Homo sapiens: one gene and its partner. Changing the gene in region 1 together with any one later gene gives a genetic interaction. Each region holds a gene or a part of one and is shown in the gene's direction. Other genes may lie near its edges. The genes, in order: LCK and IL21R.

Region 1 (15,935 bases):
CCTGACCTCGTGATCCGCCCACCTCGGCCCCCCAAAGTGCTGGGATTACAGGCATGAGCCACCGCACCTGGCCAGCACATAGTAGGTGTTTAAGGGAGGTGGGGCACTCCCTCCCCCTGCAAATGATGCACCAAAGGGAGGGCTGTCCACACCCAAATTATGCCCACTCAGCACCTTGGTGGGCCAGTGAACCACCCATTCCCTCACACTTGTGGTGTGGCTTTGCAAATCAGCCTGTTTCCTGTATACAGTGTGAGGAGTGTGAGAACTCAGGCAGGCTGGACTCTGAGCGGGGCCATGGGATCTACTTTAGAAGAGGGTCTCTCACGCAGCCACACACAGACACACACACACACACACACACACAAGCCAAAACACCATACATATCATGGGAAAATCTACGTGTACAGATGTGTTCAGAGGCAGGGCAGGGGCTACACATAAAACACAGACTACATCCTATAACTCCATGCACACACCCACGAGCTGATGGCTTCAAGGCCAAGCTCAATTCAGTGAAAGTAATTCTCAGTGGGGTGGGGTGGGGTAGGTGGTGAGGAGCAGGTGGGACCAAGGTACCATCCAGTAATGGGGCCTCTCACAATCAACCTCAGTGTTGATTTTAAAGTATCTGGAGCTAGGGGTTTGAGGCTGCAGTGAGCTGTGATCGCTCCACTGCACTCTGGCCTGGGTGACACAGCTAGATTCTGTCTCTAAAAAATAAACACGGCAGAGTGCAGTGGCTCACGCCTGTAATCCCAGCACTTTGGGAGGCCAAAGCAGGTGGATCACCTGAGGTCAGGAGTTCGAAACCAGCCTGGCCATCATGGTGAATCCCCATCTCCACTAAAAATACAAAAAATTAGCCAGGCATGGTGGTGCATGTCTGTAAACCTCCACCTCCCAGGTTCCAGTGATTCTCCTGCCTTAGCCTCCCCAGTAACTGGGATTACAGGCGTGTGCCACCATGTCTGGCTAAGTTTTGTGGGGTTTTTTTGGTTTGTTTGTTTTTTGTTTTTTTGAGACAGAGTTTTACTCTTGTTGCCCAGGATGGAGTGCAGTGGTGCGAGCTTGGCTCACTGCAACCTCCGTCTCCCTGGTTCAAGTGATTCTGCTGCCTCAGCCTCCCGAGTAGCTGGGATTACAGGCATGGACCACCACGCCCGGCTAATTTTGTGTTTTTAGTAGAGATGGGGTTTCTCCATGTTGGTCAGGCTGATCTTGAACTCCCGATCTCAGGTGATCCGCCTGCCTCAGCCTCCCAAAGTGCTGGGATTACAGGCATGAGCCACCTCGCCCGGCTGTTTTTGTTTCTAATTACAAAATTAGCACATTGCTGTTTTAAAAACACTCAAACAGGCCAGGCACAGTGGCTCGCACCTGTAATCCTAGCACTTTGGGGGGCCGTGATGGGAGGATCACATGGGCCCAGGAGTTTGAGACCTGCCTGGGCAACATAGGCAGACCCCATCTCTATTTAATTATTTAAAAAAAAAATAAAATTTAAAACTCAAACAGTAAGAGGCATATAAAGAAATACAAGAAATGCAGCCTCCTCCAATCCCACTTCTGGGATATGCCCATCGTGAAAAATTTGGTGTGTGTCCTTCCAGATTTTCCCATGTATGGCTGCTGAAAAACATGGAGGTTAAGTCTAGTCTCTGCAGGCTGGCAGACCGGGACTCACTTCACAACTCCACTGCTCATTTGTTTGTTATGAGGCCTCAGACAAATCATTTTACCTGGTTTGGGCCTCAGTCTTTGCATCTGTAAAATGGGGATAATAATAGCACTTCATAGGATTATTATGAGAATTACATGAAATAATGCAAATAAAGGCTTAGCACAGAGCTTATTTAAAAGAATCCCCTGTATACATATGTCAATGCAAATAGGCATATACTCTGCATTCTGTTCTGCAACTTGCTTGCCATGGTGTATGCGGGATGTCTTTCCGTGTCAATACATGTCAATACAAAATACCTCATCCTTTTAACTGTTTCACTAAACGTTAGCTTGGTAAATGGTTAACGGTGGTGATTTTGAAATGTTACTTCCTGGCAAGTGTTGCTGTCATGTGCGGCCATGTTGTCGGCAGTCACAGATATTATTGATCAGTGAGCTAACTACAAGCCTTATAGCCTCCTGTGAAAATGAAGTGACCCACCAGAGGGGCACCCACCTCTGTCACAGAGGGCAGGGCCAAATGCATGGGACGCTCTCTGTCTGCTTACTTCTGCATCCTCAGCTCTAGGTCAGAATCTGGCACATAGGAGGTACCCATTAAATTTATTTTTTTTTTTTTTTTTTTTGAGACAGTGTCTCAGTCTGTTGCCCCGGCTGGGGCACATGGTGTGATCATAGCTCACTGTAACTTCACACACCTGGGCTTGAGTGGTTCTCCCACCTCAGCTTCCTGAGTAGCCTAGGACTACAGATGTGTACCACCATGCCCAGCTAATTATAAAAAAATTCTTGGCCAGGCACAGTGGCTCATGCCTATAATCCCAATACTTTGGGAGGCTGAGGCAGGAAGATCTCTTGAGACTAGGCATTCAAGACTAGCCTGGGCAACATAGCAACACCCCGTCTCTATTAAAACATAATAATAACAATACAATTTATTTATTTATTTATTTAGTTATTTATAGATGGAGTCTTGCTCTGTCACCCAGGCTGGAGTGCAGTGGCACTATCTCAGCTCACTGCAACCTCTGTCTCCGGGTTCAAGCAATTCTCCTGCCTCAGCTTCCCAAGTAGCTGGGACTATAGGCACATGCCACCAAGCCCGGCTAACTTTTGTATTTTTAGTAGAAATGGGGTTTCTACTAAACTCCCAACACTTTGGGAGGGTGAGGTGGGTGCATCATCTGAGGTCAGGAGTTTGAAACCAGCCTGGCCAACATGGTGAAACCCTGTCTCTACTAAAAATACAACAAATTAGCCAGGCGTGGTGGCAGGCGCCTGTAATCCCAGTTACTTGGGAGGCTGAGACAGGAGAATTGCTTGAACTCGGGAAGTGGAGGTTGCAGTGAACCGAGATCGTGCCATTGCACTCCAGCCTGGGCAACAAGAGCAAAACTCTGTCTTAAAAAAAAAAAGTGTGTGGAGATAAGATCTCACTATTTTGCCCAAGCTGCACTCACACTATGTATGGTCTCAAGCAATCGTCCTACCTCACCCATTACATTTTTGTCAATAGGCCAGCTCCTTTAATCCACAAGCAGCAGCCTAAGCCCAAAGTTCTCTCTTGCAGTGTGGCATTTCCTAAAATATGACCTGTACACCACTCAGGTGTGTAAGTGATTTTAGGGGATAATGGATGACCATTTACGAATGTTAATTTATGTGTTTATTTTAGTGTGCGCTGTTGTTTCACTTCTATTTATGTCTCATGATTCTGGTTTTCCATTTATGGTAGTAAAGTTTCCATTTTAGGTACATATATCAAACGTGAAAAGGTAGCCCGTGGAAGTGCCAAAAATCATGAAGGAAAATGAAAATGATCAATCATTTTAGCCTGAAAGATGTTTAAGGCCAGTGTCTATGTAGCAAGCACTATGTTAAGCATTTTATTATATGAGATCATCTATATATCACGTATAATGCTCACCACAGCCAGCCTTAGATGCAAGTCTTATTTTTGTCATCATTTTGCTGATGAAGGAACTGAGGGAAGTGCAGAGGTTTAGTAAGCTGCCCAACAACCTTCTGCCAGTAAGTCTTGTTTTTTTTTTTTTTGTTTTTTTTGTTTTTTTGAGACAAGGTCTTGCTCTGTCGCCTAGGCTGGAGCGTAGTGGCCCAATCTTGGCTAACTGTAGCCTTGACCTCCCCAATCTCAGGTGATCCTCTCACCTCAGCCTCCCAAGTAGCTGGGACCACAAGCATGGGACACAAAGTCCGGCTAATTTTTGTATTTTTTTTGTACCGACGGGGTTTTGCCATGTTGCCCAGGCTGGTCTCAAACTCCTGGGCTCACGTATCTGTCTGCCCACCTTAGCCTCCCAAAGTGCTGGGATTATAGGTGTGAACCACCACGCCTGGTGCCCTTCTGCCAGCAAGTGATTGGGAGAACCTGGATTGAATTTGGGTTGCCATGGCATGGACATGGTGAACTGAGCTTCCAGAGCTGCCAGACTCCCAGAAACGTTTATAAAGCAGTGTGGATTGCCAAGCTGTAAGTAAGGCTCCATCCTAATAAAACTGTCCATGATACAAAAAGCACACCAAAGTACCCAAGGGAGCGGACTCAGTAAAAGGGATTATCAGGTATATTCACGTTACTGGTTGGGGGACTTCTACTAAAATACCAATTAGAATAATTGCTCTATATCCCTTATTTATAGCGATACTTGACTAGCAGAATCAGTTCTATGTTCAAGACACTCCCAATTTGTGAAAATAAATCCATTTTGTTTGCATCCAAAATAATGCTTTTTTTTTTGTTCTCTCTGTGTCGAGAGGCTACAGAGTTCATTCAAAAAAGGTATTAAGCCAGGTGTGGTGGCTTGCACCTATAATCACAGCATTTTGGGAGGCCAAAGCAAGGGGACTGCTTGAGCCCAGGAGCTCAAGACCAGCCTGGGGAACATAGGCAGACCCCGTCTCTACAAAAAATAAAAAAATTAACTGGGCTTGGTGGTGTGTACCTGTGGTCCCAGCTACTCAGGAGGCTGAGGTGGGAGGATCACTTGAGCCCAGGTGGTTGAGGCTGCAGTGAGCCATGATCATGCCACCGCACTCCAGCCTGGGCAACAGAGTGAGATCCCATCTCTAAAGGAAAAAAAAAAAAAAGAGAGAGAGCGGAATTAAAGCCAGGTGCAGTGGCTCCTGCCTGTAATCCCAGCTATTCGGGAGGCTGAGGTGGGAGGATTACTTGAGGCCAGAAGTTTCAGGTTGCAGTGAGCTACAATCATGTGCTGTACTACTCCAGCCTGGGTGACAGAGTGAGATGTGAGACTCCATCTCTTTAAAAAAAAAAAAAAAAACCAGGCTGGGCGCAGTGGCTCACACCTGTAATCCCAGCACTTTGGGAGGCGGAGGCAGGTGGATCACAACATCAGAAGTTCGAGACCAGCCTGACCAACATAGTGAAACTAAAATTAGTTTCTACTAAAAAACACGTCTCTACTAAAAATACAAAAAATTAGCTAGGCATGGTGGCGGGTGCCTGTAATCCCAGCTACTCGGGAGGCTGAGGCAGGAGAATCGCTTGAACCTGGGAGGTGGAGGTTGCAGTGAGCTGAGATCACGTCACTGCACTCCAGCCTGGGCAACAGTGCGAGACTCCGTCTCAAAAAAAAAAAAAAAAAAAACCCAGCCTGTGTGACGTGGTGAGACCCTGTCCCTACTAAAAATACAAAAATTATCCAGGCGTGGTGTTGCCCACCCATAGTGCCAGCTACTCAGGAGGCTGAGGTAGGAGGATCACCTGAGCTATGGGAGGTCGAGGCTGCAGTGAGCCATGATTGTGTCACTGCACTCCAGTCTGGGCCACAGAGTGAGATACCATCTCAAAAAAAAAAAAAGTATTATGTATTTAAACAAATATGAAAAAGGAGGTAGCCCAGGACACATCCCTGATTTACCCACTAGAAATTAATTACTGACGGGGCACGGTAGCCCATGCCTGTAATCCCAGCACTTTAAGGGGCTGAGGCAGTGGATTGCTTAAGCTCAGGAGTTTGAGACTAGCCTGAGCAACATGGCAAAACCCTGTCTCTACAAAAATTAAAAAAATACAAAAATTACCCGGGCCCTCTCATTCACAGCTTCTCAGGTAAAAAAAAAAAAAGAAAAAGAAAAAGAAAAAAAAAATAGCTGGAGGCTGGGTGCGGTGGCTCATGCCACACCTGTAATCCCACACTTTGGGAGGCCAATGCAGGCAGATCACTTGAGGCCAAGAGTTCTAGACTACCCTGGCCAACATGGTGAAACCCCATCTCTACTAAAAATACAAACATTAGCCAGGTGTGGTGGCACACGCCTGTAGTCCCAGCTCCTCGGGAGGCTGAGGTAGGATAATTGCTTGAACCTGGGAGGCAGAGGTTGCAGTGAGCCGAGATTGCACCACTGCACTCCAGCCTGGGCGATAGAGTGAGACTTCATCTAAAAAAATAAAAATAATAATAATAATAATAATGATAATAATAATAGCCAGGCGTGGTGGCACATGCCTGTTGTCCCAGTTACTCAGGAGGCTGAGGTGGGAGGATTGCTTGAGCCCGGGAGGTCGAGGCTTCAGTGAGCTGTGATTTTGCCACTGCACTCCAGTGGCACAAGAGAGCAAGAGAGCAAGAGGGCAAGACCCTGTCTCAAAATAAAATAAAATAAAGAAAGAAATTATTTGCCATGCCTGCTAGCCCTGATTCTTGATATTGCTTGATATTGTCATGAGGGTTCTATGTGGGCATGAATAGCTAAGGCTCTTTATTGAACATGGGCAGCTTTGTCATTAATCAAGTCTGGGTCGGGGCAAAGGCGAAGAAAATGTTTTAAATGATTCATTTTTTTTTAATTTTATTTTTATTTTTATTTTATTTTATTTTATTTTTGAGACAGAGTCTTGCTCTGTCGCCACGCTGGAGTGCAGTCCCGGGTTTAAGCAATTCTCCTGCCTCAGCCTTCCGAGTAGCTGGGACTACAGGTGTGCACCACCACGTTCAGCTAATTTTTTGTATTTTTAGTAGAGATGAGGTTTCGCCATGTTGGCCAGAATGGTCTCGATCTCTTGACCTCATGATCCACCCACCTCAGCCTCCCAAAGTGTTGGGGTTACAGGTGTGAACCACTGCGCCTGGCCTTTTATTTTTATTTTTACAGAGACAAAGTCTCACTATGTTGCCCAGGCTGGTCTTGAACTTCTGAGCTCAAGTGATTTTCCCATCTCGGCCCTAGGATTACAGGCGTGAGCCTCCAGCCCTGGCTATTCTAAATGATTTCTGACAGATTTTGCCATGAGGTGGTCCAGAGTACAACAATGGTCTGCAGTAGAATAGTCTGCTTGTTCTTTTTTCTTTTTTACTTTTTGTGCTCTACATGTTCAGAGAAACTGAACTAAAGAAATGATCCCTAAAGGAAGTATAGTCTTGTCTGCTGTTTTTTGTGTTGCTTTGTTTGTTTTGTTTTGTTTGAGAGAGGTTCTTGCTCTTTCCCCCAGGCTAGAGTACAGTGGTATGATATTGGCTCACTGCAACCTCAACCTCCTGGGCTCAGCGATCCTCCTACCTTAACCTCCTGAGTAGCTAGGACTACAGGCGTGCACCACCACACCTGGTTAATTTTTGTATTTTTTGTAGAGATGAGTTCTCACCATGTTGCCCAGGTTGGTCTTGAACTCCTGGCCTCGAGTGATCCTTCCACTTTGGCCTTCCAAAATGTTGAGATTACTGGCGTGAGCCATTGCATCCGACCACCTGCCTGTTCTTGATGTAAAGCATTGGCCCAAGAAACTCAGCCACGAAGCTGGCACACATTTTGGACAAAATGTTCAATAAATCAATAGGTCTATAGTTGGAGGAGAAAAAATGTTAACTTAAAAATTTTTTTTAATTTAATTTAATTAATTTTTTCTTTTTTTGAGACAGGGTCCCCTGTCGCCCAGACTGGTGTGCAGTGGTATAATCACGGCTCACTGCAGCCTTGACTTCCTGGGCTCAGTGATCCTCCCACTTCAGCCTCCTGGGTAGCTAGGACTACAGGCAAATGCCATCACGCCATCATGCTTGGCTAATTTTTTTTTTTTTTTTTTTTTTTTTGAGACAGAGTCTCACTCCATGGACCAGGCTGGAGTGCAGTGGCGTGATGTCCACTCACTGCAACCTCCGCTTCCCCAGTTCAAGAGATTCTCCTGCTGGCCGGGCATGGTGGTGGCTCAAGCCTGTAATCCCAGCACTTTGGGAGGCCGAGGTGGGCGGATCACGAAGTCAGGAGTTCAAGACCAGCCTAGCCAACATAGTGAAACCCCGTCTCTACTAAAAATACAAAAATTAGCTGGGCCTGGTGGAACGTGACTGTAATCCCAGCTACTTGGGAGGCTGAGGCAGGATAATCACTTGAACCTGGGAGTTGGAGGTTGCAGTGAGCCGAGATCGTGCCACTGCTCCCTAGCCTGGGCGACACAGTGAGACTCTGTCCTCTGTCTCAAAAAAAAAAAAAAAAAAAGGGCCAGGTGTGGTGGCTTACACCTGTAATCTCAGCACTTTGGAGGCCGAGGTGGGCAGATCATGAGGTCAGGAGTTTAAGACCAGCCTGACCAACATGGTGAAACCCCGTCTCTACTAAAAATACAAAAATTAGCCGGGCATACTAGGCGCATGCCTCCAATCCCAGCTACTCCGGAGGCTGAGGCAGGAGAATCGCTTGAACCTGGGAGGCAGAGGTTGCAGTGAACCGAGATCACACCATTGCACTCCAGCCTGGGCAACAGAACTAGACTCTGTCAGAAAAAAAAAAAAAAAAAAAAAAAGAGATTCTCCTGCCTCAGCCTCCCAAGTAGCTCAAGTAGCTGGGACTACAGTCACGTGCCACCACACCCAGATAATCTTTGTATTTTTAGTAGAGATGGGGTTTCACCATGTTGGCCAGGCTGGTCTCAAAATCCAGACCTCAAGTGATTCACCTGCCTCGGCCTCCCAAAGTGCTGGGGTTACAGGTGTGAGCCACGGCCCCCGGTAGCCGGACGCCGGCCACTAATTATATAGCTGAGCATGGTCGGGTGCCGTGGCTCACACCTGTAATCCCAGCACTTTGGGAAGCCGAGGCAGGTGAATCACTTGAGGACTGGATTTTGAGACCAGCCTGGCCAACATGGTGAAACCCCATCTCTGCTAAAAATACAAAAATCAGCTGGGTGTGGTGGTGCGTGCCTATAATCCCAGCTACTTGGGAGGCTGTGGCAGGAGAATCTCTTTTTCTTTTCTTTTTTTTTTTTTTGATGGAGTCTAGTTCTGTCACCCAGGCTTGAGTGCAATGGCGCGATCTCGGCTCACTGCAACCTCTGTCTCCTGGGTTCAAGCGATTCTCCTGCCTCAGCCTCCTGAGTAGCTGGGATTACAAGCATGCGCCTAGTACACCTGGCTAATTTTTGTATTTTTAGTAGAGACGGGGTTTCACCATGTTGGTCAGGCTGCTCTCGAACTCCTGGGCTCAAGGAGTCCTACTGCCTCAGCCTCCCAAAGTGCTGGGATTACAGGCGTGAGTCACCATGCCCAGACTCCTTCTGGTCTTAGTTTGATAAAGATTGCTGAGTAGCCAACATGATCTAACCAGGTTAATAAATGAGGTCAGTAAAAAGAAAATCAAAATTAAAGCTTAATATAAATTTCTCATTGTCTGAAAGAAAGAAGTGGAGGAAGGGAGAAAAAAAAAAAAAAAAAAACAGATGAAAGGAATCCCCAGGGCTCCCAGAACCAGCAATGAGGGCAGATTCTGGGGTGAATGAAACAGGACATTCTTTTCTCCCAATTTAGGAATCCAAGGTCACGAGTAAGAATTTCATAGATTCGAGGCTGCCTCTGACTAGGGCATGTAATGTTCTCAGTCAAACTTAAGGCTGCCCGTGGTCCACAGAACATTTTGTGATGATTATAAAAAGGCCACAGGCCAGGTCTGGTGACTCATGCCTGTCATCCCAGCACTTTGGGAAGCGGAGGTGGGCAGGCCACTTGAGGTTGGGAGTTCGAGACCAACCTGGCCAACATGGTGAAACCCTGTCTCTACTAAAAATAATAAAAATTAGCGGGCATGGTGGTGCATGCCTGTAATCTCAGCTACTTGGGAGGCTCAAACAGGAGAAATTGCTTGAACCCAGGATGTGGAGGTTGCAGTCAGCTGCGATTGTGCCACTGCACTCCAGCCTGGGGGACAGAGGAAGACTCCGTCTCAAAATAAATAAAATAAATAAATAAATAAATAAATAAATAAATAAATAAATAAATAAAAATTAGACTGGGCATGGTGGCCCATGCCTGCCATCCCAACACTTTCGGAGTCTGAGGTGGGAGGACTGCTTGAGCCCATGAGTTTGAGACCAGCCTGGGCAACATGGTGAAACCTTGTCACTGCAAAAAAGTAAAAATAAAAGGCTGGGCATGGTGGCTTATGCCTGTAATCCCAGCACTTTGGGAGGCCAAGGTGGCAGGTTAGTAATCCCAGCACTTTGGGAGGCCAAGGTGGCAGGTTACTTGAGCCCAGGAGTTCAAGACCAGACTGGCCAACATGGTGAAACCCCATCATTACAAAAAACACAAAAATTAGTCAGGCTTGGTGGCATGGGCCTGCAGTCCCCACTACTCAGGAGGCTGAGGTAAGAGGATCCCTTGAGCACAGGAGGCAGGAGTTTGCAGTGAGCTGAGACAGTGCCACTGCACTGCACTCCAGCCTGTGCGACAGAGCAAGACCCTGTTTAAAAAAAAAAAAAGAAGAAGACCGGAAGGATGGGGTATACCCACATTTTGTATAAACAGATGTATGCCTATATGACTTCACAATTACATAGGGACGGTCGCTGCTATTCATAGTCTCATTCTGTTATATATCCCTCTGCACACACAGACTCCTGCAAACCCACAGATATGCACCCATAAGCACAGGGCTCACTGCATATGTTTTCATATGCACAGACTTGCATTCAACAGGCAGGTAAATATATACCCAGAAACGTGCATTCCAGGTAGAGGGGGGATTGTCTTGAAGAGAAAAGCCTTTGTTAACAGCACAGTGGTCAAATTTTTGATGGGAAATGGACCCTACCCTGTCAGACCTGCCTTCCTGCCTCACATTCTCCTAGACCTCTCAGCCCTCCCCCTCCACCCTTAGACTTTCCAGGGAGTGAAAAGTAGAGGAGAGGATCTTGATAAAGGATGTAGGAGCCAAGCCAGGCATATGCCAGCAATCCCAGCTATTTGGGAGGCTGAGGTGGGAGAAGCGCTTGAGCCCAGGAGTTAGAGACCAGCCTGGGCAACGTAGTGAGACCTCGTCTAAAAAAAAAAGGATGTAAGGTTTTGATATGAGTTTTGCATCTGCCAGGAACCCTCAGTGTATTATTGGGACAATCACTGAACCTCTCCTTTTCCCCAGTTTTAAAATGAGGCTGATGAACTGTATTTGTGTTTCCTAAACTCTTGTGAAGACAAAGTGTCTTTTACCATTCCCTGTTCTACACTCCCTCTTCCCCACATGGATCTCATGATTTTAAAGTTTTTACCTACTAAGCTACCTCATTTAGATGCAAATTTTCTTATTTTCAAGTTAAAAAAATTTTTCTTTTAATAGAGAAAGGGTCTCACCACGTTGCCCAGGCTGGTCTCAAACTCCGGGGCTCAATCGATCCTCTCTCCTCAGCCTCCCAAAGTGCTGGGATTACAGGTGTGAGTCACTGCACCTGGCCTCAAGTTTACATTTTAATCAAAGATTTGGCTGGGCACAGTGGCTCTCGCTTGTAATCTCAGCACTTTGGGAGGCCGAGGCAGGTGGATCACCTGAGGTCAGGAGTTCAAGACCAGCTTGGGCAACATGGTGAAACCTCATCTCTACTAAAAATAGAGAGATTAGCTGGGCGTGGCGGCACGTGCCTGTAATCCCAGCTGCTCGGGAGGCTGAGGCACGGAGGTTGCAGTGAGCCAAGATTGCGCCACTGCACTCCAGCCTGGGTGACAGAGTGAGACTTTGTCTCAAAAAAAAAAAAAAATGTAATCAGCGATTTAATTAAGTATGCAATGAAGAAATAAATAATACAATTTGTCAAAACAAGAAACAAAGTATAGTGGAATTTCCTTTCAGATTTTTGAAATATTAAAATAACCTAAAGGCCTCCCCGGCACTAGCCTGGGACTTCCTGGGAGCATGTAAACTTCAGGCTGGGAGCCTCTGACTACAAACATTTCTGGCATTGCCAGATCCTATGGACTTACGATTGCTGCCAGGCCCTATCCTCCAAAGCTCACATGCTTATAGAGGGCAGGAACTGCCACCTGTAGCTGGGGGGCCATAGAGGAAACAGTAGAGGCCAGATACCCTGCAAAGCTAGAGTTCCTCTGATCTTAATTTAACATAGGCTGACTTTTTCTCACTTTTTGCCCAGTCTTAAGTCGGGGATTTTCTGGCCCAGATTCAGTCCAGAATCTAGGACCTGCCTTGCATGCTTTCCTGGATCCTAGCCCAAGGCCTTGTGATTCCTTTTCCCTCCCCACCTGACCCCAGCCTGGACCAGGTACCAGCTTCCAGCCCCATGATCTCCAACCTAGATTCCTTCTGCTTCTTCTACTGGCCTTTTCTCACTGTTGCACCATAGTTTATCTCTTCTCCTTCTCCTCCTCCTTCTTCTTCCTCTTCTTTTTTTCCTTTATATAGAGACTGAGTCTTGCTACGTTGCCCAGGCTGGTCTGAAACTCTTGGCAATTCTCCTGCCTTGGTTTCCCAAAGGGATTACAGACATGAGCTACAGCACCCGGCCTTGTTTTGAGACAGGGTGTTGCTCTCTTGCTCTGTTATCCAGGCTGGAGTGCAGTGGCGTGTTCACGGCTCACTGCCGCCTCAACCTCCCAGGCTCAAGTGATCCTCCCCACTCAGCCTCCTGAGTAGCTAGGACTACAGGGGCGCACCACCATGCCCTGCTAATTTTCAGATTTTTTTTGTAGAGATAAGGTCTCACTGTGTTACCCAGGCACTGGTCTCTAATTCCTGGGCTCAAGAGATCCTCCTGGCCGGGCACGGTGGCTCACGCCTGTGATCCCAGAACTTTGGGAGGCTGAGGCGGGCAAATCACAAGGTCAGGAGATCAAGACCATCCTGGCTAACATGGTGAAACCCCGTCTCTACTAAAAATACAAAAAAAAAAAAATAGCCGGGCACAGTGGCGGGCGCCGGTAGTTCCAGCTACTCGGGAGGCTGAGGCAGGAGAAGGGCGTGAACCCAGGAGGCAGAGCTTGCAGTGAATGAGTCGTGATCACGCCACTGCACTCCAGCCTGGGCAACAGAGCGAGACTCTGTCTCAAAAAAAAAAAAAAAAAAGAGAGATCCTCCTGCCTCAGCCTCCAAAAGGGCTGAGATTATAGGCCTGAGCTACTACGCCCTTTCTTCCTCCTCCTCCTCCTCCGCCACCACCACCTCCTCTCCTCCTTCACCTCCTCCTCCTCTTCCTCCTCCCCCTCCTCATCCCTCTCCTCCCCCTCCCCTTCCCCCTCCTCCCCATCCCCTTCCCCCTCCTCCCCCTCCCCTTCCCCCTCCTCCCCCTCCTCTTCCCCCTCCTCCCCTCCCCCTCCCCTTCCCCCTCCTCCCCCTCCTCTTCCCCCTCCTCCCCCTCCCCCTCCCCTTCCCCCTCCCTTTCTTTCTCCTCCTTCTTCTTCTTTCCCATCTCTCCCTTCCTCCTATACATTCCCTCTTCTTAACCTCAAACTTCTACAATCTTTCTCTTGCCTTTTTCTAAAGGCTCCAAGAATGTCAAGCCTGGCAGGGACCTTACTGGTCTAAGTCCACATTCCATCTGATGTTGGTATTCTCTTTACAACACAACCAACTTGTGGTTTCCTAAGGCTCATACGACTATCACAAACAACAGGATGCTCACTACCTCACAAAACAGCTCAGCTTATCTGAGACCAGTTCCAGGTTGCTGTTAGTCCTTTACTGGGGGCTCTTGTTGCTAATTACTCTCAGGCTATAATAGTCAAAAAGTCATTTGCAGTCACAGATGGGTGCACTCTGGTCTAGCAGGATTTCCCAAATGTCCACCTCCCCCCAGGACTCCTAACAGTAGGGGAAAGAGTGAATACGTACCCTTTTCCTGGAAAGTTTCTTGATTTGATTTAAAATTCCATGCACATTTTGCATTTTCCTCCATAATAGGTCATGTTTGTTTAACTTACATGAATAAGGTCAGGAAACACTCATGCTCTGGAAAAATGCACACCATGACATGACTTCCGGTACCCATGGGAGGCTGAGTATCTCAGTTTAAGAAACAGGAGTCGAGCTGGGCACGGTGGCTCACGTCTGTAGTCCCAGCACTTTGGGAGGTCGAGGAGGGCAGATCACCTGAAGTCAGGAGTTCAAGACCAGCCAGACCAACATGGTGAAACCCTGTCTCTACTAAAAATACAAAATTAGGCCGGGCATGGTGGCTCATGCCTGTAATCCCAGCACTTTGAGAGGCCGAGGCGGGCAGATCACCTGAGGTCGAGAGATTGAGACCAGCCTGACCAACATGGAGAAATCCAGTCTCTTAAAAAATACAGAATTAGCCGGGTGTGGTGGCACACGCCTGTAATCCCAGTTACTTGGGAGGCTGAGGCAGGAGAATCACTTGAACCTGGGAGGTGGATATTGCAGTGAGCCGAGATCACACCATTGCACTCCAGCCTGGGCAACAAGAGCGAAACTCTGTCTCAAAAAATAATAATAATAAGGCCGGGCACAGTGGCTCACGCCTGTAATCCCAGCACTTTGGGAGGCCGAGGCAGGAGGATCACAAGGTGAGGAGATTGAGACCATCCTGGCAAACACGATGAAACCCCATCTCTACTAAAAATATAAAAAATCAGCCAGGTGTGGCGGCACGCGCCTGTAGTCCCAGCTACTAGGGAGGCTGAGGCAGGAGAATCGCTTGAACCCAGGAGGCGGAGGTTGCAGTGAGCTGAGATCGCGCCACTGCACTCCAGCCTGGGAGACAGAGTGAGACTCTGTCTCAAAAAAAATAAAAAAGAAAAAAGTAATGAGAGAAATGCAAATGCAGAAAGAGAAATGCAAATGCCTGGCAGTATGTTGGGCTTCTTTTCAAAACTTAAAAAAATTTATTATTATTATTCATTTATTTATTTACTTTAGACAAGGGGTCTTGTTCTGTCACCCAGGCTGGAGTGCAGTGGTGCAATCGTAGCTCACTGTGGCCTTGAACTCCTGGGCTCAAGTGATCCTCCTGCCTCAGCCTCCCAAGCACCTGGGATTATAGGCATGCACCACCATGCCCAGCTAGTTTTTATAATAATAATAATAATAAGAGGCTTGCTTGAGGTGATGGATAGCTCATTTATCCCTTTTGTGATTATTACACATTGTATGCCTCTATCAAAATATATCATGTACCCCATAAACATATATACTTACCAGATACCCATAAAAGTAAATAAATAAATAAGTAAATAAATAAATATACAAAATTAGCCGGGCGTGGTGGCACATGCCTGTAATCCCAGCTACTTGGGAGACTGAGGTAGGAGAATCGCTTGAACCTGGGAGGCAGAGGTTGCGGTGGGCCGAGATCGTGCCATTGCACTCCAGCTTGGGCAACAAGAGCAAAACTCCGTCTCAAAAAAAAAAAAAAAAGAAAAGAAAAGAAACAGGAGTCTAGGGCTGGGCACAGTGGCTCATTGCCTGTAATCCCAGCACTTTGGGAGGCTGAGGTCAGGAGTTCGAGACCAGCCTGGCCAACGTGGCAAAACTCTGTCTCTACTAAAAATACAAAACACAAAATACAAAAATTAGCCAGGCGTGGTGGTGCACGCCTGTAGTCCCACCTGCTTAGGGAGGCTGAGGGAGGAGAGACAGAGCTTGCAGTGAGCCCAGATCACACCACTGCACTCCAGCCTGGGCAACAGAGCAAGTCTAAAAAAAAAAAAAAAAGGAAAGAGAGAAAAGAAACAGGAGTCTAGGCTGGGCATGGTGGTTCACGCCTGTAATCCCAGCACTTTGGGAGGCTGAGGTGGGTGGATCACTTGAGGTCAGGAGTTCAAGACCACCCTGGCCAACATGGTGAAACCCCCATCTCTACTAAAATTACAAAAATTAGCTGGGCGTGGTGACACATGCCTGTAGTCCTAGCTAGTCAGGGGGCTGAGGCAGGAGAATCACTTGAACCTGGGAGGTGGAGGTTCCAGTGAGCCAAGTTCACACCACTGAACTCCAGCCTAGGTGACAGAGTGAGATTCTGTCTGTTTTTT
Region 2 (15,935 bases), on another chromosome or scaffold:
GATCTTCTGGCTTCAAATTCTGAGCCCTTTTCTCAACTCCACTGTGTCAGGGATCTTTGGTGGCAAGTGACAGAAATAGAATTCAACATGATTAAGCAACATAGGTGGTTTTTGGCTCATGGGAATGAGAAATCCACAGGGTGGACATCAGATATGGCTGGATCCAGGACCTCCCATGATGCCATGGGGACTCCTGACCTGTATTTCTCAGTATGGCTGTCATTTTCAAGGAGGCTGTCTCTAAGAGGTGACAAAGATGGCTACAAGCTCTGAGAAGATACCAAAAAAAGTGTCAGTTTTCTAGAGTTCTAGAAAAAAAATCTCAGGACTGCTTTCACTGGCCTTGCCTGGGTTGACATCCATCCCTGATGCAATCACTGTGGTCAGACAGATGGGGTGTTTTGATTGGCCAAGCCTGGGTCAGGAGCCCACTTTGTGGAGCATGGGGTGGAGTCAGCCTCAGGCAAACCACTAGAGGCAGCTCAGATAGAGGAGCTCTTTGGGAAGAGACGCCGGGCAGGCAGAAGCAGCAGGTACCCCCTCCACATCCCTAGGGCTCTGTGATGTAGGCAGAGGTAAGAAATTAGGAGGGATGAGGAGTTTTTTGTTTGTCTGTTTGTTTTTTTAAAGACAGGGTCTCACTCTTTCATTCAGGCTGGAGTGCAATAGTGCAATCATGGCTCACTGCAGCCTGGACCTCCGGCACTCAAGTGATCCTCCTTCCTCAGTCTCCCGAATAGCTGGGACCACAGGCACACAGCACCCGGCTAACTTATTTTTACTTCTATTTTTATTTTTGGTAGAGACAAGGTCTTGCTATGTTGGTCAAGCTGGAGATGAGGAATATTGAATCTGGGCAAAGGAGTTTGCACTTTTTGCTGTGCTGTGGTCAAGATAAAACCATCAGGGAGTGACGGGGACAGAGCTATGTCAGGACTCGCACCGTGGCTGGGGTGATGGATGTGGACAGAATAGTGAGGGGGCAGACACAGACTCCCCCTCCTGCGATCAGAGGCCACATCTTCAAAGTGTGATAACAGGACCTCTGCAGGGGTTGGAATCACACAGGATTCATATTCCTAAAAGCAGGTTGAAACTGCATCTACCTCAACATTATTTTATTTGAGTAGTGATGTTATTGCTTAGGATGATGCTGGAGTTAAATTTTTAAGTGTGCTTATCTATAGAAAATATATTAAAATATGTATTAAAATAAACAACAGTGCACACAATATACAAATATGGCCAAAATTTTGGATATGAGATATTTTGGCAACTCTTGGCTAGATCATTCTGAGACCCCCTCTGTTTCTGAGGCTCTACCTTCTCCATCAATTACAGCTGTTGTTTGAGTGTTTATGTGATGGGGGCCATCTGCAGGGTTTTATGCAAATCACCTCCTTGAATTCTCACAAGCCTGGAAGCAGGCCTTGCTGTTTCCACTTTACAAGGCTCAGAGAGGGCAAGGGACTGGCCCGGAGCCACACAGCTGGTCATCTGAACCTTCCTGGCCCCCCAGCCTGTGCCCTGCCCCAGGGTTCTTTGATGGCTCTGTGAGGGAGGTCAGAGGGAACTATGGATGGGGCCAGAGTAGGATCTTTGGGAACCCCGGCACAGAGGAGGAGGATCTTCCCCTTGTGGAGTCAGGGATGGCGTCTGGAGAAAGCCATGCCTGTGACTTGGGTCCTGCATGGGGCATCCCTCTTAGGTTTAGCTTTAGCTCCATTCTTGTCTATAGGGGCTGGTCTGGGAGGGGCTCCTGAGTCTGGGCAGGTGGACCACTGCCCTCTGGCTGGCACTTCCTCAAACAGACACAGAGCTGGTGGGTGAAACAGACAAGTCCCAGGAGAAGCCTGGCATCGCCAGACTGGTGGGGCATTCCTCTGCCCAAGACAGTAGAGGGCACTCTTTCTGGATAAACTCACTCTGCTCCCCAAAGAGGTTCCTTCTCCATCCTGGCCCAAATTAGGAGGTCAGGTTGTCTCTGTTTGGTCAGGCCTGGATTTCCTAGCATGCTCCCGAGTGGGCTAATCTGGGCTTTGTGATGGAGTAAGGAGCCTCATTATTGGGCTAACCTTATCTTAAGTATTCAGCAGTGGTTAACTTTGTGGGTTAACTTTGGATTTATTATTCAGTAAGAAGCCAATTTATTGATGGCTGGGTGCAGTGGCTCATGCCTGTAATTCCAGCACTTTGAGAGGCTGAGGTGGGTGGATCACCTGTGGCCAGGAGTTCGAGACCAGCCTAGTCCACATGGCAAAACCCTGTCTCTACTAAAAATACAAAAATTAGCCAGGCGTGGTGGCGGCCACCTGTATTCCCAGCTACTTGGGAAGCTGAGGCAGGAGAATCGCTTGAACCTGGGAGGTAGAGGTTGCAGTGAGCCAAGATCGGGCCACTGCACTCCAGCCTGGGCGATAGAGTGAGACTTTGTCTAAAAAATAAACATAAAAAAGCCAATTTACTGGCTTTTTTTTACAACATGGATGTTTATAGGAAGGAAGATCCAAAATTGCTCCTCAGCAGATCCCCCTTTCCAAACTAGTTTTTTCTCCTTTTCTCTCTCCCTTCCTCTCTTTTTCCCTCCCTCTTTCTTTGTTAGATAGATAAATACACAAGTTTAATTTCACACACAATGCTACATCAATAGGCTCAGCAAGGGCAAAATAGTCAGCAGTCTCCTCCCTCTTTAAATTCACCTTGTGCTGGGCGTGGTGACTCATGCCTGTCATCCCAGCACTTTGAGAGGCCGAGGTAGGAGGATCATGTGATCCCAGGAGTTTGAGACCAGCCTGGGCAACATAGCAAGATGCCGTCTCTACAAAAATGTTTTAAAAATTAGCCAGGCGTGGTGGCACGTGCCTTTGGTCCCAGCTACTCGGGAGGCTGATGCAGGAGGATCGCTTGAGCCCAGGAGGTTGAGGCTGCAGTGAGCCGTGATTGCGCCATTGCACTCCAGCCTGGGCAACAGAACATGACCCCATCTCTAAAAATATTAAAATAAAATAATAAAACAAATTCACTTTGCATTTGTGACGTGATGGGGCGGGGGCAGGAAGAAGGTGGGAGAAGGGATTCTTGGGGTGAATCTGCCATTTCTAAGAGGTGGGAGTTCTTGGGGTCATCCACAGGCCCCTCGGGATCTTGCATTTTTCTTAAGACAGTTCCAAGAATCAGGGGCAAGTCTGCCTGGGAAGAGACAGGATGAGGGGGAGGCCGGGGGAGCCCTGAGCCCGCCTGGCTCACCCTCCACTGTACGTCTCTTGCAGGCCCGTGGGAGTCAGCATGCCGCGTGGCTGGGCCGCCCCCTTGCTCCTGCTGCTGCTCCAGGGAGGTAAGTGGCTGCCCCGTGGTCTGCGGGTGGGGAGGGCCCCCATCACAGAGCTGAGCCAGGGCCGGGCTGGCTTTCTGGGCTCAAAAACACGGCTAGAGTCCACAGATTCAGAAAAGATGACATCCATGCCCTTGAGGCTGACACGAGTCCAGTAGCCGGCTCTCCACTAATCAGAATCCATCCACCAAAGGGCTCCATGAAACAGAAGCGGTAGACATGAGTCTCAGGTGGCCCAGCCCACAGGCTTGTGTCTTCGGGTGTCACTGGGGGGATGAAAGGCTTCGTCCTTCATTTCCCCTGACCTCTGCCTTGGCTGGCTCCCAACTCTCTGAGTGAGGAAGTTCTGCCTTCCATCTAACCTCAGTTTCTCCTTATGTAATGACTCTCCTTGGAAATGTTTTTCAACAATTGCTGCACCGGGTGCGGTGGCTCCTACTGGAATCCCAGCCCTTTGGGAGGCTGAGGAGGGTAGGTCGCTTGAGCTCAGGATCTCAAGACCAGCCTGGGCAACATGGTGAAGCCCTGTCTCTACAAAAGAAAAAAAATTAGCCAGGCATAGGAGCGCATGCTTGTAGTCTCAGCTTTTTGTGGGGCTGAGGCGGGAGGATTGCTTGAGCCTGGGAGGTGGAGGTTACAGTGAGTCAAGGTGACAACTGTACTCCAGCCTGGGCAACAGAGCGAGACCCTGTCTCAAAACAACAGCAACAACAACAACAATAAACAAACAAAAAAATCGCTAGATTCTTAGCAGGCACTGGTGGTCCCTGGGCTGGGGACAGGAGGAAGAGCCAAAAGGAGACTGAACCTTGGTAGGCAGCCCCCAGAGGACCAGATGTTGTGGTTAGAGGGGGTGACGTTAGAAAGCAGAACTGGGAAGACCAGGAGTCCGACTGAAAGGGCACTGCCTAGGACTAAGAGATCCTGGAGGGCTTCCTGGAGGAGGGGGCCATGAGGAGGCGGGATCCAGCACAGACTTGTGTGGAGGCCGGCCTAGGGGCAGGGGAGGAACTCAACAGCTGCTCTGCTGACTCATGGGCATTTTTCTCTGGTTTTTACCAGAAGACCCAGGACCTCAAATAGCTCCTTCAGGAAACAGATGTCAAGCTTTGATTTTCCCTTTCTGAGTGGCAAGCATCCTCATCTTGGTTCTAAAAAGCCTTTGGGTCACCCACCATGGCTCCACATCTGGCGGGTGCAGATAACAAGCCCTGGCTGCATGCAAAGCTCGGAGCGTCATCCCATTCCACTGTCCCAACAGCCCCACAAGGCGCATGTTGTAATGACGCCCAGTTTTTTGGCTGAGGAGGCTCAGAGAGGCTAAGAGACAGGTGCATGGCCACACTACCCGGAAGAGGCAGAGCTGGGATCAGTTTGCTCTTGGGGTCTGTCTTAGTCTGTCTGTGCTGCTGTAACTGAATACGTGAGACTGGGTAATTTATAAATAATAGACATTTACTGCTCGCAGTTCTGGAGGCTGGGAAGTCCAAGATCAAGGCACCAGCAGTAGCTTTGATTCCGGTGAGGGGCCCATCTTTGCTTTTTTTTTTTGAGACTGAGCCTTGCTTTCTCACACAGGCTGGAGTGCAATGGTGCAATCTTGGCTCACTGCAACCTCTGCCTCCCAGGTTCAAGCAATTCTCATGCCTCAGCCTCCCGAGCAGCTGGGATAACAGGCACATGCCATGGCTAATTTTCGTATTTTTAGTAGAGTTGGGGTTTCACCATGTTGGCCAGGATGGTCTTGAACTCCTGACCTCAAATGATCCACCCGCCTCGGCCTCCCAAAAGTGCTGGGATTACCGCACCCAGCCCCCATCTTTGCCTTTAAGATGCCACATTGAACGCTGCACCACCCCCAGAGGGGACACACGCTGCATCCTCACATGGCAGAAGGGCAAAAAGGGTCTGAATGTTGGGTTCGTCCAGCCCTCTTATAGCATCAATAATTCATTCAGGGGGGCTCTGCCCCCATGACTTAATCATCTCCTAGAGTCCCCACCTTTTAATATGATCACATTGGCAACTGAGTTTCTGGGGAGACACAGACGTCAAACCGTAGCACGGCCTTCACCATGCTGTGCTGCTATCTGTGGAGTGATAGCCATGTGCGGGCAGCATGCAGGCACAGGCATGATCTCATCTCAACACCTCAACAGCCTCTAGGGCAAGCAGTGTCTCCGGCTTACACATGGGGAGGAGAAGCAGTTTTGAGTCACATGTTTGCAGTCACAGAGCTACTTTGTGCACCTCTCACTGCCTCCTGCACGCTTTCATAACCCCAGACATGGGATGGCCCTGGGGCTCTCTGCCCTGTGGCTGGGGTACTGACAGGGCATTTTCCCACCCTCTCATCCCTGGTGCCACCTCCCTGCCACTCAGGGGCTGCCGTTGCCTCCCCAAGTTTGGAGACAAACCCTGTCCCTTGGTAGCTTTGAGCCTGGCTAGGAATGGTAGCTCCTCTCCAAATTCCCAGAGCTCTGAGAAAGAACCACGAGGATACGAACTCAGAGATGACACAGCTACTTAGAGGCTCTGTGTTGAGGTTTTGCCAAAATCAGTCCTGTTTTCTCCACCAAGTGCTGGAACTAGCTCCTTTTCACTCCACCGACAAGTTCTGTGTGTCTCCCTGAGGAAAGCCCCCTCCTAGAGCAAGATTTACTTCCATGACTCAGATCCCTTGGTAGCCACTGCCTCGAGAGAAGTTGAGAAGCATTCCGAGGTCACACCTAGGGGAGGGAGTGCTGTGATCCATTAGCAATATCTGTCATGTGTGCGGCTATGAAAAACTAGCACAGACTAGGTATTTCCTTCCCTGGGTGAGTGTCTCAGCAGCCCAGACCAAGAGAGACAAGAGGCATGGTCTAGTCTTGGAGCCTCAGTGTTCTCATCTCTACAATGAACTAAAGGATATTTCCAGACACAGTATTCTTGGCTCCGCATATAGGTTCTGTCCTAGAGTGAGACCCAGGAAGGGAATCTACCACCACCACCTCAGGGGTCTTCATTAGTCCAGGGAAAATAGGAAAAAGCCACCAAAAATGAACCTACTTAAAAAGGGGAACAAGGTCAGGCACGATGGCTCATTCTTACAATCCCAGCACTTTGGGAGGCTGAGGCAGGTGGATCGCTTGAGCTCAGGAGATTGAGACCAGCCTGGGCAACATGGTGAAACCCTGTCTCTACAAAAACACAAAAATTATCCAGGCATGGTGGTGCACAACTGTAGTCTCAGCTACTCAGGAAGTTGAAGTGGGAGGACTGCTTGAGCCCAGGAGGTGGAGGCTGCAGTGAGCTGAGATCGCACCACTGCATTCCAGCCTGGGCAACAGAGCAAGAGATCCTATCTCAAAAAGAGGTGAGCGGTACAAGTTTCTAGTAAATAGCAGCAAAAAATAGTGGAATTGGCACTCGAATATACAAAACAAAGCTACAAATTATTCCATTGATTTTGTCCACATTTAACAAAATGTAGATGATGATTGCACCCCTGTTTTAGAACACAGCGAAACAATTAATGTTTGGGGAGCAGGATGGAAAGGTGTTAAATCTTCCAACAAAATTGCCTCATAGGGCAATACCTAGAAGACTTCTTGGTGGCGGTGGCATTTTTGGCCGCAGGATCACGCAGACCTTTATGCAAAAGTGTCCGAGGGCTTTTTAATTCTCTCACGGTTTCCTACTCCTTGAAGCACTTCCTGAATCTCCGAGAGTGGGTGTCCTGTGGATCCAACTTCTGTAGAGCCGAGTCCTCTTCCTTGTCAGGGTTTTGGGACATTTTCAGCATAGCTGTCCTTGACTCTATGAGGTCCTGACCCTCTTGGGGTGTGTGCGTGTGCTCTGGCTGGGTTCCTACCACATCTGGGGCATTTAGGATATTGCCATTCTGAGTGGGAGCTTGGCCAGGAGGGACACAGACCTGGTGGCCGGGCGCAGGGCTCTGGAGGAGGGTGCTGAGCTGGGGACCAGCTAGTTTTATATTATTTGCCATCACATGCATCCTGTCTTCATAGCCAGCCTTGAAACATTGGTGCTCAAACAAGGAATTTCCAGGTGGTGAGGCCCCCTGGGTGCCAGGCCTACATCTAAGCAGCTCCTGAGTCCTCATATTTGTCCCGGCCTGGGGACCCCTGCACCCATTCTTCCTCCAGCCCTCGAGGGGATGGAGAGGAAGCTCTGCAGTCCCAAGCCACCCCCCACCAAGGCCTCTCTCCCCACTGACCCTCCAGGCTGGGGCTGCCCCGACCTCGTCTGCTACACCGATTACCTCCAGACGGTCATCTGCATCCTGGAAATGTGGAACCTCCACCCCAGCACGCTCACCCTTACCTGGTAAGTAGCCGGGCCTCACCAGTCCCCGGGGATGCAATTCAGGGTGCCTGCTCAGTGATTCCCCCAGGAGGACACTGTGCACTGAGGACCACTGTGTCCGCCTTTCAGACAACCACTCAGGGCTCACAGGACTTGAAAAGTCAGGAGCCCGCAGGGTTGGTCTATCCACCAGCTTCAAAGGCCACTCTCTCACCCACACAGGTCGGCCATGGTTTTGAGACCCCGGGATGGCTGGTTTCCCGCATGATTTTTCAAGCACTTAGGTACCAGGCCCCCAACTACACGCTTCCCATGAATGGTCACCCCCAACCCTCACAATGATTACTCCCATTTTACAGATGAGGACATTGAGGTTCAGAGAGGTTAAGCAACTTGCCTAAGGTCACACAGCCAGTGAATGCTGGAGCTGGGATTCAAATTCAGACCGCCCAACTCCAAAGTCCATGGGTCCCTTTTAGACCCTATGCAGCTCAGGATAAAGAAGAGCTTCTGTTATCCATCAGCTCATTCATTCATTCAAAACCATTTATAGGCCAGGTGCAGTGGCTCATGTTTCTAACCCCAGCACTTTGGGAGGCCAAGGAAGGAGGATCACTTGAGCCCAGGAGTTTGAGACCAGCCTGGGCAACATCACAAAACCCTGTCTCTACAAAAAATAAATCAGTCGGGCGTGGTGGCACAATCCTGTAATCCCAGCTACTTGAGAGTCTAAGGCAGGGGGACCAAGCTCAGGAGGTCGAGGCTGCAGTGAGCTATGATCACGCCACTGCACTCCAGCCTGGGCAAAAAAGCAAGATCCCAACTCAAAAACAAAACAAAACAAAACAAAACATGTATTAAGTTCCTGCCAGACACTGTTGCAGGCACTGGGGATTCAGCAGAGCAAGACTGACCAGGCCCCAGATGCCTTGGAACTGACGTACCACGGTGGGGCGGAGGCTGGGGGAGACAGACACACAAAACAACCAACAAGGTGCTTTCTCTTTTTTATTTTATTTTATTTTATTTTATTTTATTTTTTTGAGACAGGGTCTTGCTCTGTTGCCCAGGCTGGAGTGCAGTGGTGGGATCAGAACTCACTGTAGCCTTGACCTCCTGGGCTCAAGCAATCCCTCCACCTAAGCCTCCTGAGTAGCTGGGACTACAGGCATGCATCACCATACCTGGATAATTTTTGTAGTTTTTGTAAAGACAGGGTTTTGCCATGTTACCCAGGCTGGATTCAAACTCCTGGGCTCAAGCAATCTGCCCACCTCAGCCTCCCAAAGTGCTGGGATTACAGGTGTGAGCCACCATGCCAGGCCCAAACAGGACACTTTCTTTCTTTCTTTTTTTTGGAGACGGAGTCTCACTCTGTTGCCCAGGCTGGAGTGCGGTGGCATGATCTCGGCTCACTGCAACCTCCACCTCCTGGGTTCAAGCAATTCTCCTGCCTCAACCTCCCAAGTATCTGGGATTGCATCCAGGTGTGCACCACCATGCCTGGCTAATTTTTGTATTTTAAGTAGAGACAGGGTTTTGTCATGTTAGCCCACCTGGTCTCGAACTCCTGGCCTCAAGTGATCCGCCCACTGTACCCGCCTTTCAGACAACCACTCAGGGCTCACAGGACTTGAAAAGTCAGGAGCCCGCAGGGTTGGTCTATCCACCAGCTTCAAAGACCACTCTCTCGCCCACACAGGTCGCCCATGGTTTTGAGACCCCGGGATGGCCGGTCTGCCGCATGGCCAGCCTCCCAAAGTGTTGGGATTACAGGCATAAGCCACCGTGTTCTGCCCCAAACAGGATACTTTCTAATAATACTGGGTGCTATATCAAGGACAGAACACTGGACCTCAGGTAAAGGGACCACAACTGCTAGTGAGAAGGAGGAAGCCAGGGAGCTGGGCAGAGGGCACTGCCAGTGCAAAGGCCCTGTGGGAGAAGAGCTGGTGCGTTTGAGGAATAGGGAGGAGGTCAGTGTGGCTGGAGTGGAGTGAGGCAGGGTGAGGGGGAATAAGGAGCAAGTTCAGGCTGGGAGGCTTGGAGAGCATTTATTCAGCAGGAACTTGTATTCCAGCAAATTTGGCAGAGAACTCAGTCCACACATCCCTACTGGGCCTAGAGAGTGGTCATGTTCAGATCCTGAACATCTAGGTAGGGAAATTAATATCCGGTAAACTACTATACATACTTCAAAACCCATCATTTTTGTCCAGTGGGAGTTAAAAAGCCACAGCATTTTCCCTAATCCCATCCCACCAACTTTCCCAGAAGTCCACCCAGAGGAGGAGATGAGGTTCATTTAGCTCTTTTCCTGGCCCTCAGCACAGGCTATTATTAGATATTCAGTGGATTTGGGGACTGGGCGAGGTGGCTCAGTCCTGTAATCCCAGCACTTTGGGAGGCCAAGGCTGGCAGATCACTTGAGCCCAGGAGTTTGAGACCAGCCTAAGCAACATGGTGGGACCCCATCTCTACAAAAAATACAAAAAGTTAGCTGGGCATGGTGGTGCATGCATGTAGTCCCAGGTACTGAGGAGGCTGAGGTGGGAGGATCAGCTGAGCCTGGGAAGGTCGAGGCTGCAGTAAGCCATGATCACACTACTATACTCCAGCCTGGGGCCAGAGTGAGACCCTGTCTCAAAAAAATGGATGTTGGACAGAAAGGAGAGAAGGAAACCCAAAATGCCTAGCGCCCTTCCTGCAGGACAGCCATCTGGTTGTTGGGACCAACAGGGACAGATTTAGGCTTAGTCCAAGCAAGAATGGCCCAAATTTCCAAAATTGAGAGCTGCTGCCCTAAATGAGGTAGTGAGTTCCTGGCCCCTGGGAGGTGTGCAAGCTGAGCCCGGACACAATTCATTGAGGATGCTGTAGGGGAGGTGATACCTTCCCTGGGAAAAGGTTGGTTGGACCAGGTGACCACCCCCCAGCCCTGCCTCAAATCCCTCCCAGCCCTGAGAGTCTGGGCTTCTGCCCTGGCCCTGAGCACTGAGCCCACCACCATCCCCCCTGCCCCTGGCTTCCAGCCATGACCGGCTGCTTTGTCCTTGAAGGCAAGACCAGTATGAAGAGCTGAAGGACGAGGCCACCTCCTGCAGCCTCCACAGGTCGGCCCACAATGCCACGCATGCCACCTACACCTGCCACATGGATGTATTCCACTTCATGGCCGACGACATTTTCAGTGTCAACATCACAGACCAGTCTGGCAACTACTCCCAGGAGTGTGGCAGCTTTCTCCTGGCTGAGAGCAGTGAGTATCCTGGGACCCCAGGCTTAGGGTGGCACTCAATCTTAGCTCACCGCAGCCCTGACCTCTCTGGGCTCAGGTGATCCTCCCACCTCAGCCTCCCGTGTAGCTGGGACAACAGGTGTACACCACTACACCCAGCTAATTTTTGTATTTTTAGTAGAGACGGGGATCTTGCCATGTTGCCCAGGCCAGTCTCGAACTCCTGGGCTCCAGCGATCCACTTGCCTTGGCCTCCCAAAGTGCTAGGATTATAGGTAGGGGCTGGGTCCCCTACTCCCTGCCCTCTGGGCCAGCTCTCCTCCTTCCATCAGATCTGACCTGGCCTATGTCCTCACTACACCTTAGAGTTCTGTTTTGAGTTGCGCTATTTTTTACTAAAGTGTGAAAGGTTGATAATAGGTTTGAGAGGTATTGAAGGAGCTAGGCTGGGACCCGGGACTTCTGGGTTCGTGTTCCGGCTCAGCTCTGCCCATCTGTGTGACCATGGATGAGGCATACCTACCTCTGGGACAGCTTCCCTATTTGTAGAGCAAATGTCCTTTTAACCCTGACTTTCTGGGATCCTGACCCCATAATGAGGCGAATGGACGACACTGAGTTACAGAAAAAAAAAACCCTCTTGGGTTTTTTCCCCTTCATAAGCTCCAGGGAGGCCTGGAATTTCCCTCCAGGCTGGAGGTAGAGGGGGGTCCCAGGGGCAGGAGGGCCTGGTTGGTGGGAGCAGTTTTATCTGTGAGTTCAGAATTAGGGCAGGTGGCAGGGCGAGGTGGCTCATGCCTGTAATTCCAACACTTTGGAAGGCTGAGGCAGGAGGATTGCTTGAACCTGGGGCTTTAAGACCAACCTGGGCAATATAGCGAGACCTCATCTCAAAACACAAAACAAGAACCAGGGCAGGGGCCAGGCACTGTGGCTCACGCCTCTAATCCCAGCACTTTGGGAAGCTGAGGCAGGTGGATCGTTTGAGGTCAGGTGTTCGAGACCAGCCTGGGCAACATGGTGAAACCCCATCTCTACTAAAAATACAAAAAAATTTGCCGGGCGTGGTGGCACACGCCCGTAATCCCGGCTACTCGGGAGGCTGAGGCAGGAGAATTGTTTGAACCTGGGAGACAGAGGTTGCAATGAGCCAAGATCATGCCACCGCACTCCAGCCTGGGCGTCAGAGTGAGACTCCGTCTCAAACAAAACAAAACAGAACTAGGCAGGGCATGGAAGGGCCTGGGAGGTGGCTTTGGCATGGTGTGTGTGTGTGTGTGTGTGTGTGTATGTGTGTACCCAAAGCGGCCCCAGAGGCAAACACAGGCTGCAAAGGGAGCCTGCCCTCAGGAAGGCCCCGCCCATGAGCTCGGGAGTTTCTGCCGCTAGATTCCCAGCAGAGGGGCTGGGGTATAAGAGGTGTCTGTGATTCACACTCTGGGGGTCCAGGTTTGCACCTCTTTGCTGAGTGGATGTCACACCACAGAGCGTGAGAGTGAAGCTTCACACACTCCCAGACACATGCACACTCACGCAAATTCCCAGGGTCACAGACTCACGCACACACAGACTCATAGATGCGCCCTCAAACTCACAGATGTCTCCCCAGCCCCAGCCTGCATGGCATGGACACAGAGGCCCACACTGCCTCTCTCTCTTGCTCTCTCTCACTCTCATACACACTCACACATACATACACACACACACACACACACACGTACACAATACACACACACTCACACATATACTCTCACATCACTCATACATGGGCACACACACGCACACACTCACACATGCATTCTCACACACGTGTAGACTCACACATGCACACACATATACACTTTCTCACACGTGTGCACACACGCACATATACACATACTCATACACTCTCACATCACACACGGGCACACATATGCACACACTCACACATGCATTCTCACACACGTGTACACTCATGCACAGACACACACATTACTCACGGGCACACATGCACACACTCACACATGCACAGACTCACAAGGGGACCCTCCTTGCCACTTGTCTTGCAGCGTGAATCCAAGCATTTCTCTCTGGCATTCCCTCCCTCCCTGCCAGGATCTGCAGCTAGCCTGGTCCCAGCTGGGGCAGGAAGTGATTTTCTAACCACCTCCCGCCGAGGGTCCCTTCCTCCTCCTGGGCCCTGGGCCTCGCTGGGCTGAGCAGCCCCTCTTCACGACCCCCAGGCTCTGCAAACATCTCCCGAGTACCCACGGGGCAGTTCTCAGTACCCTGGTGTCTTCTGGGACTCATCCTCACCCAGCCACACAGGGAAGCCGAGAGCCGGCCTCCACCTGCCCCGGGGAAGACAAAAGAGGGGTTAGAAACGATTTCAGTCAAAAACATCCCATTACTGGAACAGCAACAGCAACAACCCAGTGTTCACCATGGCATTCTGTAAAATGTGCACCTCTGTCACCTCGGGGCGTGGTGGGAGCCCTCAGTGCGGGTTTCAGGATCACAGGCAGCCTTAGAGCTCCTTTCTGGAGGCCTTGCAAGGTTCATTAGTTAATCTGACAAATATATATATATATATATATATATATAGAGAGAGAGAGAGAGAGAGAGAGAGAGAGAGCGAGCAAGCGCGCGCCAGGGTGTAGCTTTGTCCTCCAGCCTGGGGTGCAGTGGCACAACCATAGCTCATTGCAGCCTGGAACTCCTGGGCTCAAGCGATCCTCCCACTTCGGCCTCCTGAGTGGTTGGGACTACAGGTGCACATCACCATCCTGGCTAATTTTTAAATTTTTTGTAGAGCTGGGATCTTGCTGTGTTGTCCAGGCTGGTCTTGAACACCTGGCCTCAAGCAATCCTCCCACCTCAGCCTCCCAAAGTGCTGAGATTTTTGGCATGAGCCACCTTGCCCAGCCTAATTTGCCAAATATTTATTGAGGGCCTACTGTGCCCCAGGCTGTGTTCTAGGAGCTGTGGGCACAGACTGAACCTGGAGGACAAAACCTCTGCCCCAAGGAGCTAAGAGCCCAGTGAGGGAGGCACATAGTAAACAAAATCACAGGGTGAGAGGTGCAGAGTGTTAGATGGTGGCAGATTGAAAGTGAAGAAGGTGGCTGGGTGTGGTGGCTCACACCTGTAGTCCCAGCACTTTGGGAGGTTGAGGTGGGTGGATCACTTGAGGTCAGAAGATCAAGACCAGTCTGGCCAACATGGGGAAACTACTTCTCTACTAAAAATACAAAAATTAGCCAGTCATGGTGGTGCGCACCTATGGTCCCAGCTACTTGGGAGGCTGAGGCCGTGTAATCGCTTGGGCTTGGGAGGTGGAGACTGCAGTGAGCTGAGATCACGCCACTGCACTCCAGCCTGGGTGACAGAGATTCTGTCTCAAAAAAAAAAAAAAAAAAAAGAAAGAAGAGAAAAAAGAAAGGGAGGGAGGGAGGGAAGGAGGGAGAAAGGAAGGAAGGAAGGAGAACAAAAAAAGAAAAAGTGGAGAAGGTGAGGGCAGAGGCCTGCAACTCCTCTCTGACACTAATAGACACTTGTCACTCAGTTCCTCTGAAGTTACTGCCTTCTGCTAAATAGCTTCATCCCTTTGAACTTGAAGCCCCATGATATAGGAACTGAGCCCATTTTACAAGAGAGGAATTTAAGGCCCTTAACATATTGTGTTCTGCTCAAGTTCATGAAATGTCCTTCGAATGGAGCAAAAACAGAATGCCGGCTTTGACCTTCACCTGGAGGCCGCCCATGAAAGCTTGCTGTTATGGCTCAGAGCTCGGCTCTTGCACTTGCCAGGAGACGCTGAAAGATGAGGACCATCAGATTGGCCTCCCAGGGCCACTGTGGGGTGTCAAACTGCCCAGAGCAGGGCAGCCAGGCAGGCTCTGTGTAAATGGCAGCCCTCACCATTAGCATTCATGCTAAGAAGAGTCATCAACTGCTTGAAGTAGCTGGGGTTGAAAGAAAATGATACCATCATTTAGAACAGAAATGGAAAATGAATGGATTTGCCAGCACGTTGCTGAGAACATTTTTGGATGGGTTGCTAACTTTAAAACTTAATATAGGCCAGGTGCAGTGGCTTGTTCTTGCAATCCCAGGATTTTGGGAGGCTGAGGTGGGAGCATCACTTGAGGCCAGGAGTTTGAGACCAGCCTGGGCAAAGATAGTGAGACCCCATTTCTACAAAACAGACAAATAATTAGCCAAGTGTGGTCGCATCCACCTGTAGTCTCAGCTACTTGGGAGGCTGAAGTGGGAGGATGGCTTGAGCCCAGGAGGTTGAGGCTGCTAGTGAGCTATGATCGCACCACTGCACTCCAGCCTGGGCAACACAGTGAGATCCTGTCTCTAGGGGGAAAAAACCCTTGGAGATTTCACATGATAATTCCAGGGGTCTCCCGTTTCCCATTCTGCACCTCATATTGAAACTTGCCCTTCAGTGCATAGAAAGCAGGGTTTCAGATTTCATGTGTGTGCGTGTGCATTTGTGTGTGTGCATGCTGTGCGTGTGCATGTGTGTTGCATGTGTAGGCATGCGTTTGGGTGTGCATGTGTGGGCATGCATGTGTGTGGGTGTGCATGTGCACATGTGTTTGTGTATGCGTGTGTGTAGGCATGTGCGTGTGTGTTTCCCTAGAAAACTTAGAAAAGCTGACCACTCTGTGCTGCTGGGGCCATTCACTTTTAACTCTTTTATTTATTTATTTTTGTTCGTTTTTGAGATGGAGTCTCGCTCTGTCGCCCGGGCTGGAGTGCAGTGGCGCAATCTTGGCTCACTCCAAGCTCTGCCTCCCGGGTTCACGCCATTCTCCTGCCTCAGCCTCCCGAGTAGATGGGACTACAGGCGCCCGCCACCACGCCCGGCTAATTTTTGTATTTTTAGTAAAGATGGGGTTTCACCGTGTTAGCCAGGATGGTCTCGATCTCCTGACCTCGTGACCCACCTGCCTTGGCCTTCCAAAGTGCTGGGATTACAGGCATGAGCCACTGCACCCAGCCAGACTGTTTTATTTCGTCACAGTCCCTAAACCTGCTTCACTCCTCTCTGTGACCTGCCCG

The links.
Region 2: changes in LCK (region 1) and IL21R together harm fitness more than expected from each alone (negative genetic interaction), as found in Homo sapiens cells (one study listed by BioGRID).

Annotation. Positions count from the first base shown.
Region 1 is NC_000001.11:32,253,509-32,269,443, forward strand, and holds part of LCK (tyrosine-protein kinase Lck), read left to right. Parts: intron 1-15,935. UniProt on the Homo sapiens protein: Non-receptor tyrosine-protein kinase that plays an essential role in the selection and maturation of developing T-cells in the thymus and in the function of mature T-cells. Plays a key role in T-cell antigen receptor (TCR)-linked signal transduction pathways.
Region 2 is NC_000016.10:27,426,787-27,442,721, forward strand, and holds part of IL21R (interleukin-21 receptor isoform 1 precursor), read left to right. Parts: intron 1-484; exon of another isoform or gene 485-575; intron 576-3,269; coding exon of another isoform or gene 3,270-3,285; coding exon 3,286-3,334; intron 3,335-7,560; coding exon 7,561-7,663; intron 7,664-10,701; coding exon 10,702-10,901; intron 10,902-15,868; exon of another isoform or gene 15,869-15,935. UniProt on the Homo sapiens protein: This is a receptor for interleukin-21.